3 linked regions of the Homo sapiens genome follow. The protein of the gene in region 3 purifies or fractionates together with the protein of the main gene of each other region. This does not show direct contact. Each region holds a gene or a part of one and is shown on either strand. Other genes may lie near its edges. The genes, in order: HCLS1, DNAJC10 and ZNF283.

Region 1 (3,154 bases), on a different chromosome or scaffold from region 3:
GGTGCTATAGGCCCACAATACCATGCCCAGCCATTGCTCAGGCTGATCTGTTTTGGACTGGGTTTAAAATGCAGCCTAAGGAGGCCAGGTGCAGTGGCTTATGCCTGTCATCCCAGCACTTTGGGAGGCTAAGCGGGGGGCGATCATCTGAGGTCAGGAGTTCAAGATCAGCCTGGCCAACATGGGGAAACCCCATCTCTACTAAAAATACAAAAATTAGCCGGGCATGGTGGTGCACGCCTGTAGTTGCAGGTACTCGGGAGGCTGAGGCAGGAGAATCTCTTGAACCCAGGAAGTGGAGGCTGCAGTGAGCTGAGATCACACTGCGGCACCCCAGCCTGGGTGACAGAGCAAAACTCCTTCTCAAAAAAAAAAAAAGTTCAGCCTAAGGAAAAGGCCTAGTCTTTGACATCTAGGGTACAGGGGAATTGGCAGTGGTAAGAGAAAGTTTCCTGGATATGCCTGGAAGAGGAAAGGTTGGAGCCTTAAGATTTGAGGCCATGAGGGCCACACAAAAAGTACTATTTACCTCAGCATACAGGTGAACCATAGTCTCACTTTATTTCGAATTTTAGGACTGAACAGAAAGAAGGTTCAGATATTTCTTCAGGGAAGGAAAGTGGGCAAATAGCACAATGAGGCAAACCACACAATCTAGACGTACTTTCCCGGGTAAACAAACTGGGAAGCCCAGAGCTCACAGAGGAGGAGAGCAGAGCTTGGGGTGGCAGAGAGGTGTTCATTGGGAAGGAGTCAGGAACACAAGAGAAATGTTCATGAGCTCATCCAGGATAGAGAGGACTCTTGGGGAAGGGGACCTCCTTCCCCATGCTGTCTCTGCCCCAAGCCCTTAATGAAGCAGGAGAGGGAAGTCTGTCCAGAACCTCATCTGGTTAGACATTTGCAGCAGGAATAGGGAGGGGGTGGAGGCAGAGCCACTTTGGACATGGGAAATCACAGTTGCAGTAGACAGTGAGCTCTAGTCACTCCAGAAGCTTGACATAATTTGCAGGGAAGAGTCCAAAGTGGCCATGGCAACGTCCCCGCCACCAGCCCTCGTCCACCATCTCAATGTCAGTGATTACGTCGTCCGGATCAAAGGAAAGCTCATCACTTCCCTCTGGGGAGAAAGTTGAGGGGATATTAGAATGGTCAGACATGAATCTCTTTTCACATGTCCCCCTGTCTTATATCAGGGGCCTCCATGTACCAGGCTCCTCGGGCCACTCCCAACCTACCTCCTTGGTAATCATATACAGCCACAGCTGAGATCCCCAGAGCCACAGCCCCAGCCCCAGCCCCAGCCGGGCAGCCTGATGATCCTGCATAATGAGAAACACAAACATGGGATCATCAACATGAAGAAGGCAAACAGAGAAAGATCCTACTGGGGCAATAGAGAAATTCTTCTTCCTCTTACCCTCCCCTGGACATGAGCAAATTCTCCTGCTTCTCCTCCCATCACTCACCAGCCAGAGCAGAAGAAAAAGAAGAATCTTCAGGCTCGAGCACCTCCTCATAGTCCCCCTCTGGTTCATCCTCCTGCTCATGCCTGTCCATCTCCTCAACGTCCTCATAGTCATTCTCAGGCTCGGGCTCAGGCTCGGGCTCAGGCTCAGGCTCTGCTTCGTACACTGGCTCTTCCTCCACCTGGAGGCCTTCCAGAGTCCTAGGGGGCAGAGCTGGGGGCTCCTCATTGTCCTGAGAAGAGACAGTGTGGAGCACTGTGACTTCCACTTTCCAGGAGGAATCAATGGAGGACTGATAAGATCCCCCGCCCTTCACCACCCTGCCTCTTCTCCCCTCTACCCTTGCCTCCATCTAACAGCCTCTCCTGGGGAACACAGCCTTTCATCCATCTTCATTCTTCAATCTCCTCCCACACCCACCCACCCAAAACACATTCCAGAGACAATGGGAAGAGAATGTAAAAGGTGTGAGGGGAGGGAAGTAGAAAACAAGTCAGATTCTTTGGGAGACCAAGAAAACATTGAAGCAAGAGCACATTGTTGAGCTACCACAGCTAGGATAATCATCTATACTAGTTTGCCCAGGACAGAGGAGTTTCCCAGAAGGCAAGGTCTTCAGTGCTAACACCAGAACAGTGCAAGGCAAACCAGGATGGTTGGCCACCCTGCACAGCCCACATTCCTAAGACTCGAGAAGATGGGGTGGGGGCAGAGAATCTTTGGGGGTTTGCTTACCTCCGGGAGAGTCTGCCTAATGGGCAGCAAGGGCACTGGGTGTTCCCTGCTGGTTCTCACAGGCTCAGACTCTGATGATGGAGGAGTCCCAACTGGAGGCCAGGCCTGTGGAAAATGAAGCATCTCTCAAGTAAGCAAGCCTCCATCTTCACTCCTTTTTTTTTTTTGAGATAGACTCTCGCTCTGTAGCCCAGGCTGGAGTGCAGTGGTGCGATCTCAGCTCATTGCAACCTCCGCCTCCCAGGTTCAAGCGATTCTCCTGCCTCAGCCCCCTGAGTAGCTGGGATTACAGGCACACGCCACTATGCCTGGCTAATTTTTGTATTTTTAATAGAGACAGGGTTTCACTATGTTGGTCAGGCTGGTCTTGAACTCCTGACTTCCTGACCTCGTGATCTGTCTGCCTTGACCTCCCAAAGTGCTGGGATTACAGGCATGAGCCACCACGCTCGGCCCATCTTCATTCTTTTTATTTTATTTTATGCATTTTTTGAGACAGGGTCTCACTCTGCTGCCCTGGCTGGAGCACAGTGAGATCATAGCTCACTGTAGCCTCAAACTCTTGGGCTCAAACAATCCTCCTCTCTAAGCCTCCCAAGTAGCTGGGACTATAGGCACACACCACCATGCCCAGCTAATTTTTTAATTGTTTTTATAGCGATAGGTTCTTACTATGTTGCCCAGGTTGGTCTAGAACTCCTGGCTTCAAGTGATCCTCTCACCTTGGCCACCTCAAGTGCTAGGATTACAGGCATGAGCCACCACACCATGCATGTCTTCACTGTTACATTTACCAGGAACACCCTCTCCCACTCTCTGCCAATTCAAATGGAACTCATCCCTCAAGATGGGCTCCAGCCTGAAGTGACGGCCCCTTCCTCATAGTTCCTACAGCAATAATTGGCTGTGCTGGCTGGTGACTTGCTTTCTGTTGTACTATGTAAATCTTG
Region 2 (3,651 bases), on a different chromosome or scaffold from region 3:
TAAGTTAGTGATTTTAATATCAAATAAAACAGAATTTGTGTAAACAAATCCATAATGCACAAAGAGAAATAAATAGCCGCCAAAGGATATAATGATCATACTGCTGCCAACAATATAATGTCAAAATATGTAAAGGAAGAACTGACAGAAATATAAGAAATAGATAAATCAATGATGGATGGTAGAGATTTTAATACATCCCTCTTAGAAATTATAGATCATGTAGTCCAAAAACAAATAACATGATTAATAAATCTGATCTAATAAATGTAATACTACACCTAACATATATTACACCTAACATAACATTATTATATTCAAGCTCACAAAGAATTTCCAAAATTTTCAAAACTGACAATTTGTGTGGCTTTGTCAAGCCACAAAGCCACAAAGGGTATTTCAATGGTGTTAAAAAATCAACATCACTCAGGCTACTTCCCAGCCATAACATGAGAGCTATATACATTTAAAAATGACTAAAAAAGAAAACAACAAAAGATAAAGTTGGGAAATGACAAAAACACTAACATGTAACTTCAGTTGAAGAGGAACTTATAAATTACAGAATACTTACAAAGTAAATGACACTTAGAATTGATACCACGTTAAAATTTATTGAACGTAACTAATTATTCAGGAAAAAACACATAGCTATGAATACAGTCATCAGAAAATAAGATTACAAATAGGTGAGTTAAATGTTCAAGAAATAAGGGAAGAAAATGTTTCAAATCAATTTCTAAATGTGTTTCTTTACATGGTGATATAGTTTTACAAAATGATTGATGCTTACCAACATGCCACTAAGCCTGAGTCGTGTCTGTGAAGTCAAACAATCTGGGGACAAAAAAACCTTATGAGGCAGTTTTACCTTTATTAAGCCTGATGAAAATACTTGCATTTGCCTTTCCCCCAAATTACCATGTTCATTCGAAGGCAATTAATTGAGCTGGACTCTATTGATAGATATGGAAATCCTTCTACACACACACACATACAAACACACACACAAAAACACACACACACTCCCTCGCTCCCTCTTTCTTTCATTCTCTCCCTTTAATTTCTAGGATGTCTAGCTACAGAGAAAAAGTAATTTTCTCTCTTTAGGTTAATACTCTCAATCTCTCCTCCTATCAACAATCCATTTTATCCAAGAGATCTCAAAATTGGGGGGAAATAAAATGTAATAGATATTTGATAGAAGTATATAAAGGATCCTCAAAATACAATAAAATCTTTAAATAGTGCCTTCACTATTTTTATGAAAGTTCTGCAAATATGAACACTAGAATACAATGAGAGAAGATTTAGAAGAAAGAGAGCTATAGCATCACAGAGCCTACAAAGACAGGGAGAAGCAATTTACTTGAGGTGAGAAGTAAAAGAATCTCAGAGAATGTAAGAACTTTTGTTCATGTGTGGATGAACAGAAATTTGGGCAATAGGCCAAAATGAGACAAAATCCCTTGGTGATTAGTTAAGTTTAAGGCTGACGTTTTGCTGCAAGGCAGTGTCTTTCTAGCATAGGCCTTACAGGATGGGGTAATGGGTTGATTTTAGTTACAAGGCAGTACCTTTTCAATATAGCAGCATGAAGGCTGAGAGATGAAATGTGGGGAGAAGACTCATGTTGGGATTAAATACATGCAAATACATTGAGTTATAATATTTTGTTGTCTTAGAACAATTTTTAACCAACCACATTGCTTGAACACAGTTTACAGTTTACGGCTTGCTATGCAGAGTACTGAATTTTCAACTTAATTTATTCAAGGAAAGGTTCCTAGAAGAAGCTGTCATCTTCAAGTATATAATTGTATGAGGCAAATCTATGTATGTTTGAGAGATATATATAAGCATGAAGCAAAGTCCATATTTCCAAAAAATTATTATTTTGGGAGGGGTTAGAGCTGTAAACAACTAGTTATTTTTGCAAATTGTCAAATAACATCTGTGGCTATCTGAAGGTACAATTTATCATGAGTCTAAGCTGAAAAACTGGTCCACTGAACATAAAAACATAGAGGATACATTAAAAAATGAATAATAACCTCATGTGTAAAATAATGAAAAAGGCGAATATTCATTAAGTAAAAAAATTGTAATCCTGGGCATAAATTGTAGTTTCTAGTACTTAATAATCAATTACAGTAGCATACTTAAAACTGTCACCAAAAATTTAAATGTCATGTTCTCATTCCAACAAAATTAAAAAATAGTATTACCTCCTCCTTTTGAACAAAAAGTGATCAGCCAGCCAATACCAGCAGCAAAAGCAGTTTGTATGGAGTTGACAAAATTTCCTTAAAAATAAAAGAAAAAAAGCAAATTCTGATCACCTATTACTCCTTTACTAATGGAAACAGTCTTCTAAGTAATTTTTCCTTTCTAATCTCACCCTCTTCTAATCCACTCTGAGTTTTACCAGTTATCTTTCCAAAGATACTCTTGAGTATGACAAATTCCTTCAATGGCTCTCCAATTTTTTCATCATATAAAACCTAAATTCATTATTTCATTAAGAAAAAAACTCAAATTGGCAAGTTAGGCCCCTGTGACTTGAGCTTTGCCTACCTATTTAGCCAGCTATATTATATTTCCCCACACCACTTGACCCAATTATTGATCTTTTTGTCAGATTCATGAAGTATTGCCAGTTCCCCAAATACACAGTGATCTCCTAAGGCTTCCTATTCATTTTCATGACAGATTGGATATGACTTCTTTCAAGAAGTATTTTCTAACTCTTTCTCTTTTCCCCAACTGGGTTGTTTTACACATCTTATGCTCCCTTAAGCTCTATAATAATAGTACCTATATTGCATTTTAATTGTTTACTAATGTTTTCCTCACTAATGAAGTCACTGATGGCAGGGACTATATATTTTATTACTGCAGCCCCACTATTTAATAGTTTCTGACACGTAACTTTACTCAATGAATAAAATGAACATCTTGAGCCACAAATACTATTATTAGCTTAATCTGCCTAAAGGCAGTTAATGAGTTAAAAGCCTAAGATTAGAAGCATTTTTAAACTTTAAAATTAAACAGAATAGGTTTGAATTTACTGATTGATAAGCATATTTAAAAAAGCAATAAAACACTTGTATTACAAAACATTTTTTGCACTTTGAGAGATGCCTTTTTTACCGTAGCCCTATCTCATATCCATTTCCCATATCTCGATAGTTCAAGTTTCTGTAAAAATTTAACTAGTTTGTTAAATTCAGCAGAGTTCAGAGTAAATGACACAATTCCCTTCTAAGAAACATGGAAAAGACACTTTAAAATTTCAATACCATGACCAAAATGTTAATATTGCCATTAAAAACAAAATACTGATTTCAAAATACCCTGAAAATCAAGCAAATTAAGAAAATAAAATTACCTGTCCAAAGTTCTGTCACTGTACTTCTAACATGCTGCATTGCAAAACTCACTAAACTCTCCTTTGATCTGTCTCCATGATATTTCACTGGGGCCTATTGGTTTTTGTAAGAAGAGAAACATCTTTTACTTTTTCTTTTTAAAACTCAATAAAAATAATACCAAAGAGTTTGATTTTTACATTATCTTGAATAATGCAGCAAAGCTCTATTTCTCAATAGCAGAATGTATTTCCAAATGATATCCTGATAATCTTGA
Region 3 (4,250 bases):
TAGTCCCAGGTACTCGGGAGCCTGAGGTGGGAGGATCGCTTGAGCCTAGGAGGCCAAGGCTACAGTGAGCCATGATCATGCCACTGCACTCCAGCCTAGGCAAAAGGCCAAGAACCTGTTTAAACAAACAAACAAAAAAAGTGTTCCTGTCCTAGATCATTTGAGCATGTGGTCACTTTTTCGTGTCTGTGTGTGAGACAGTCTTGCTCTGTTACCCAGGCTGGAGTGCAGTGGCGCGATCTCGGCACACTACAACCTCCGCCTGCTGGGTTCAAGCAATTCTCCTGCCTCAGCCTCCCGAGTAGCTGGGACTACAGCCACCCGCCACCATGCCCGGCTAATTTTTTGTATTTTTAGTAGAGACGGGGTTTCACCATGCTGGCCAGGCTGGTCTCGAACTTCTGACCTTGTGATCCACCCGCCTCGGACTCCCAAAGTGCTGGGATTACAGGTGTGAGCCACCGTGCCCAGCCCCCACTTTTTTAGTTAATTTGCAAGCACCCGTCACAATCAACTTCATACTTCTGTTACTCTAATCTATAAAAAGTTTATGGGAAATAATCTAGAAGAGCCCAATAATAGCAACTCAATATTCAGTAAGCCCATATCATGGGGATGACACTGCTCTACGAAGCTTTACATATAATATCTCATCTTACATCATATCAACTCCATTAGGTAGGTACTATCCTGTCCCTATTTTATAGATGTGGCACAGAGGGCCTGAATCAATTGTCTAAGCACACACAGCTACCAACAGGCAGAGCCAGGATTTGAATTCAGATACTTTGGATCCAGAGCCTTAATTTTTTTGTTGTTGCTGTTTTTTCGAGATGGAGTCTCTCTCTGTCACCCAGGCTGGAGTGCAGTGGTGCAATCTTGGCTCACTGCAACCTCCACCGCCCGGGTTCACGCCATTCTCCTGCCTCAGCCTCCCGAGTAGCTGGGACTACAGGCGCCTACCACTACGCCCAGCTAATTTTTTGTATTTTTAGTGGAGACGGGGTTTCACCGTGTTAGCCAGGATGTTCTCGATCTCCTGACTTCATGATCCACCTCCCTCAGCCTCCCAAAGTGCTGGGATTACAGGCGTGAGCCACTGTGCCCGACCCCAGGGCCTTATTTTTAACTACAACATAGTACGGCTTCTTACATGCCACAGAAAGCTGGACTTCAAACAAGTCATGCTTGGAAATGTTACAGATTTCTATCTAAAGATTATCTGAAAGTCCCCACTCTTGTTGGTGCAAATTACAAATCCCTATGTTCAAAGCTCAATCATATTTCCACCCCTAAAAGCCTCACAAAGCAGACAACATTGTCATTTACTGCCAGAAACATTCCCTTACTTAAAATCCCTTATACCTTGCCTTTCTTTAAGCATCATGACTATGGGCCAGGCATGGTGGCTCACACCTGCAGTCCCAGCACTTTGGGACGCCAAGGCCAGAGGAACACCTGAGCCCAGGACTTCAAGGTTGCACTGAGCTATGACTATACTACTGCACTCAGCCTGGGCAACAGAGTGAGACCTTGTCTCTAAAAAAAGTTAAAAAAAAATTTTAATTATGACTACAGAAAAGATAAAAAATAATGTTTATATAACACCACCTAATTACTAATCTCTTCAAATAATCATAGTATAAAATAATGCTCTAATAGCAATCTACAAGAGGTGCCTTTCTATAACTCTTCAGTGCATCATAATGCACTGAAGTATTTGAACAATTTGCCATATGAACAGGTGGGTAAGAATTGTGGAGAAGAACAATAGGGGGCCACTGGGAGGAAATATGTACCAGCATGGCGGGTCATGTAACTGGGAAAACCCAGTCAAGATATTTCAGGCCAAGGAAAGAAAATGTTCTCATGACCTAGAAGCAAAGGTAATTGTATGTGTATGTATTTAAAAAGTATGTATAAAAAACCTCACCTGAACCTTGATTTCTAAACATGCAAAAATCCTTTTCTCCTCTTCAAACTCCTTCTTAGAAATCTGGCAACCTGGCAGCACTGGGGGAAAAAACAGTAACATGAGACATCAGCATTTCTAGCGCGTCACAGACTTAATTAAAAAAGAAAAAGAAGAGCAAAACACCCTCTGGGGCCACTTCTGCCTTCATCCACACAAAACCAAACGGAATGAAAAGGGAGGCTAGAGTCTGTCTCTGTGTTGAGGGCAATTCTTGGGGACAGAGGTCTGCTTGCAATGGCTCTGAAACATGTAGCTCACCACCAAAGAGCTCCTAGAGGCCCCTCTTCTAGGAATCCCACCTCTAGAACTTCCCCATCAGGTCTTGACAAGATCCTGTCCCGCGGACACTTCCAGATCTAAAATTCTCATCCTTCTTGCTTGAAACGTTCATTATGGGGCTTAGCATAGACTTCTTTCTTGCGGTCATTTAATTGTGGCAGGCCCGAAGACAGGCTAAAGGGAACCTAGAGCATTTGGTCAAAGCAAATCACATTTACAAATACGGCCACGCACCCTGTCAGCCCGTCACACATTCACAACTGCACCCACCTCCGTGGGGACACGCCCCGTCCCTGCCACGCCGTCTGAGACACACTGTCCCTCGGCTGCTCGCGTGCACACAGGCTTGAGGATCCGGACACGACACGCTCTGTCCGTGACCCAGCCCTCCCCACCTCCAGCACCCCCGATGCCACCCCCACCCTCACTGCCGGTTCCAGTCGGGCCCCAGTAAAGCCAGCCGAGCCCTCCCAGCTTCACCCGGGCTGATTACTTCTACAGACACGACCAACTCACCATGCAGAGTCCAAGAACCTTAAGGACACCGGAAAAGGACCCAGAGACCTGTGGTTAGTTTGGACCCAGAGGCTGATGGGAAACAAGAGCCTGGAAATGCTCGCAGGCTGGGAGAGGAGCTTCTGGCAGGCAAGCTCGCCCCGCCCCTAAAAGGCCTGTGCCCCGGAGACTTCTGGGAAATGTAGTCCACAGCGGCAGAGTCTCCGGAAGTTGAAACCTGGACAGCAGGGATGCTCCCAGCATGCAACTTGGCTTCACCTGTCAAAGGCGCTTTTTTCGAAGACGCCCGGGAGCTCTTGCTTTTGCTTGAGGGTCTTTGGTGTTGACTGAGAGCGAATTAAAAGGTTCTCAGCTTTCGCTAAGGAACGCATTCTGGAGTCTAGAACAGGCGAAGATGGGACTGGGGTGTCTGGGGACTTAGACGTGAGCGAGCAAGGGAATCCGGGGTAAGTTCGCTGGAAATGACCTGCGCGACACTACCAGTTTACCTGGGTATGAGCGCCTGGAACAGTGTCTGGCAATTGAACAGATGGGTGTGTCTTGCTGTGAGGGAGTTTCTTAGTTCGATTCGGTGTCTGGGACCCTGCGTGGACCTGTTTATGTTCATGGGATGTTTTCTAAATTTATGCCTGTGTGAGTCTGTTTTATTAGGTGTGAGATGAACTGTGTTACAGATTTTATATGCCGCTGTTGAAAGACAACAATAAGTGGTAGTGAGTGGATATTGTGACCGTGGAGACTTATGGCAGTGCAAAGGCGGCCATAAACAATGCACAAGCAATCCAGCATGGCTGTGTTCCAATAAAACTTGATGGATTATAAAATTTGAATCTCATTTTTTATAGAGTATGAAACCATTTATTCTGAAGCACACACTCATACTCCAAAAACAATACTATATATTCCCTCTCTCTCTCTCCTGTGTGTTTGCGTGTGTGTGTGTGTGGGTGTGTGAGAGAGAGAAAGGTTTTAAAGGAGACAACTAACTGATTCTGAGGTTAGGGCAAAAAGATTGGGGCTGTGGTTGGTGTGGTAAGAACCTTTGGATATAAATACTTTTTTAAAAAAGAATTGTCTAAAAATATTAAAGCGAAATTTTATATTAAAACTAACAGAAAGAAAAGGAAGTTACTTTTTAGGGGCTCTTTCTGGTCACTGATATCACCTCTCTCATCCTCTGCCATCTCTCACCTCCTGGTCTCTCTTGCTTATCAAGAGAAGACTAGAGCTCTTGGATCCCAGCTTTTCCCCTGCCTCAGCTGAGGCCACTACCCTGGTTGACTCCCATGGTGACATGGATGCCTCATCCAGTATCGTGGGTCTGAGTCCTCATCTGCAGGGTCCTTGAGCTTTCCTCGGCACCCATCCCCGTTTCCCATCTGGGACTTCATTATCATCAGCATCTGCTCCACCTCCAAAACCACTGGTGGAAGCAGCCTCCTCTCTTCCCATGTTACTTGCTCAATGACTCCCACAAGTA

The links.
Region 1: the proteins of ZNF283 (region 3) and HCLS1 purify together in Homo sapiens (co-immunoprecipitation; one large-scale study listed by IntAct). This does not show direct contact.
Region 2: the proteins of ZNF283 (region 3) and DNAJC10 purify together in Homo sapiens (co-immunoprecipitation; one large-scale study listed by IntAct). This does not show direct contact.

What each region holds. Positions count from the first base shown.
Region 1 is NC_000003.12:121,630,863-121,634,016, forward strand, and holds the end of HCLS1 (hematopoietic lineage cell-specific protein), read right to left. Parts: intron 2,310-3,154; coding exon 2,205-2,309; intron 1,702-2,204; coding exon 1,470-1,701; intron 1,323-1,469; coding exon 1,239-1,322; intron 1,121-1,238; coding exon 984-1,120; 3' UTR 537-983; downstream 1-536. UniProt on the Homo sapiens protein: Substrate of the antigen receptor-coupled tyrosine kinase. Plays a role in antigen receptor signaling for both clonal expansion and deletion in lymphoid cells. May also be involved in the regulation of gene expression.
Region 2 is NC_000002.12:182,729,685-182,733,335, reverse strand, and holds part of DNAJC10 (dnaJ homolog subfamily C member 10 isoform 1 precursor), read right to left. Parts: intron 3,489-3,651; coding exon 3,395-3,488; intron 2,307-3,394; coding exon 2,229-2,306; intron 838-2,228; coding exon 794-837; intron 1-793. UniProt on the Homo sapiens protein: Endoplasmic reticulum disulfide reductase involved both in the correct folding of proteins and degradation of misfolded proteins.
Region 3 is NC_000019.10:43,825,965-43,830,214, reverse strand, and holds the start of ZNF283 (zinc finger protein 283), read right to left. Parts: upstream 2,895-4,250; 5' UTR 2,771-2,894; intron 2,599-2,770; exon of another isoform or gene 2,525-2,598; intron 2,440-2,524; exon of another isoform or gene 2,234-2,439; intron 2,014-2,233; 5' UTR 1,934-2,013; intron 116-1,933; exon of another isoform or gene 1-115. UniProt on the Homo sapiens protein: May be involved in transcriptional regulation.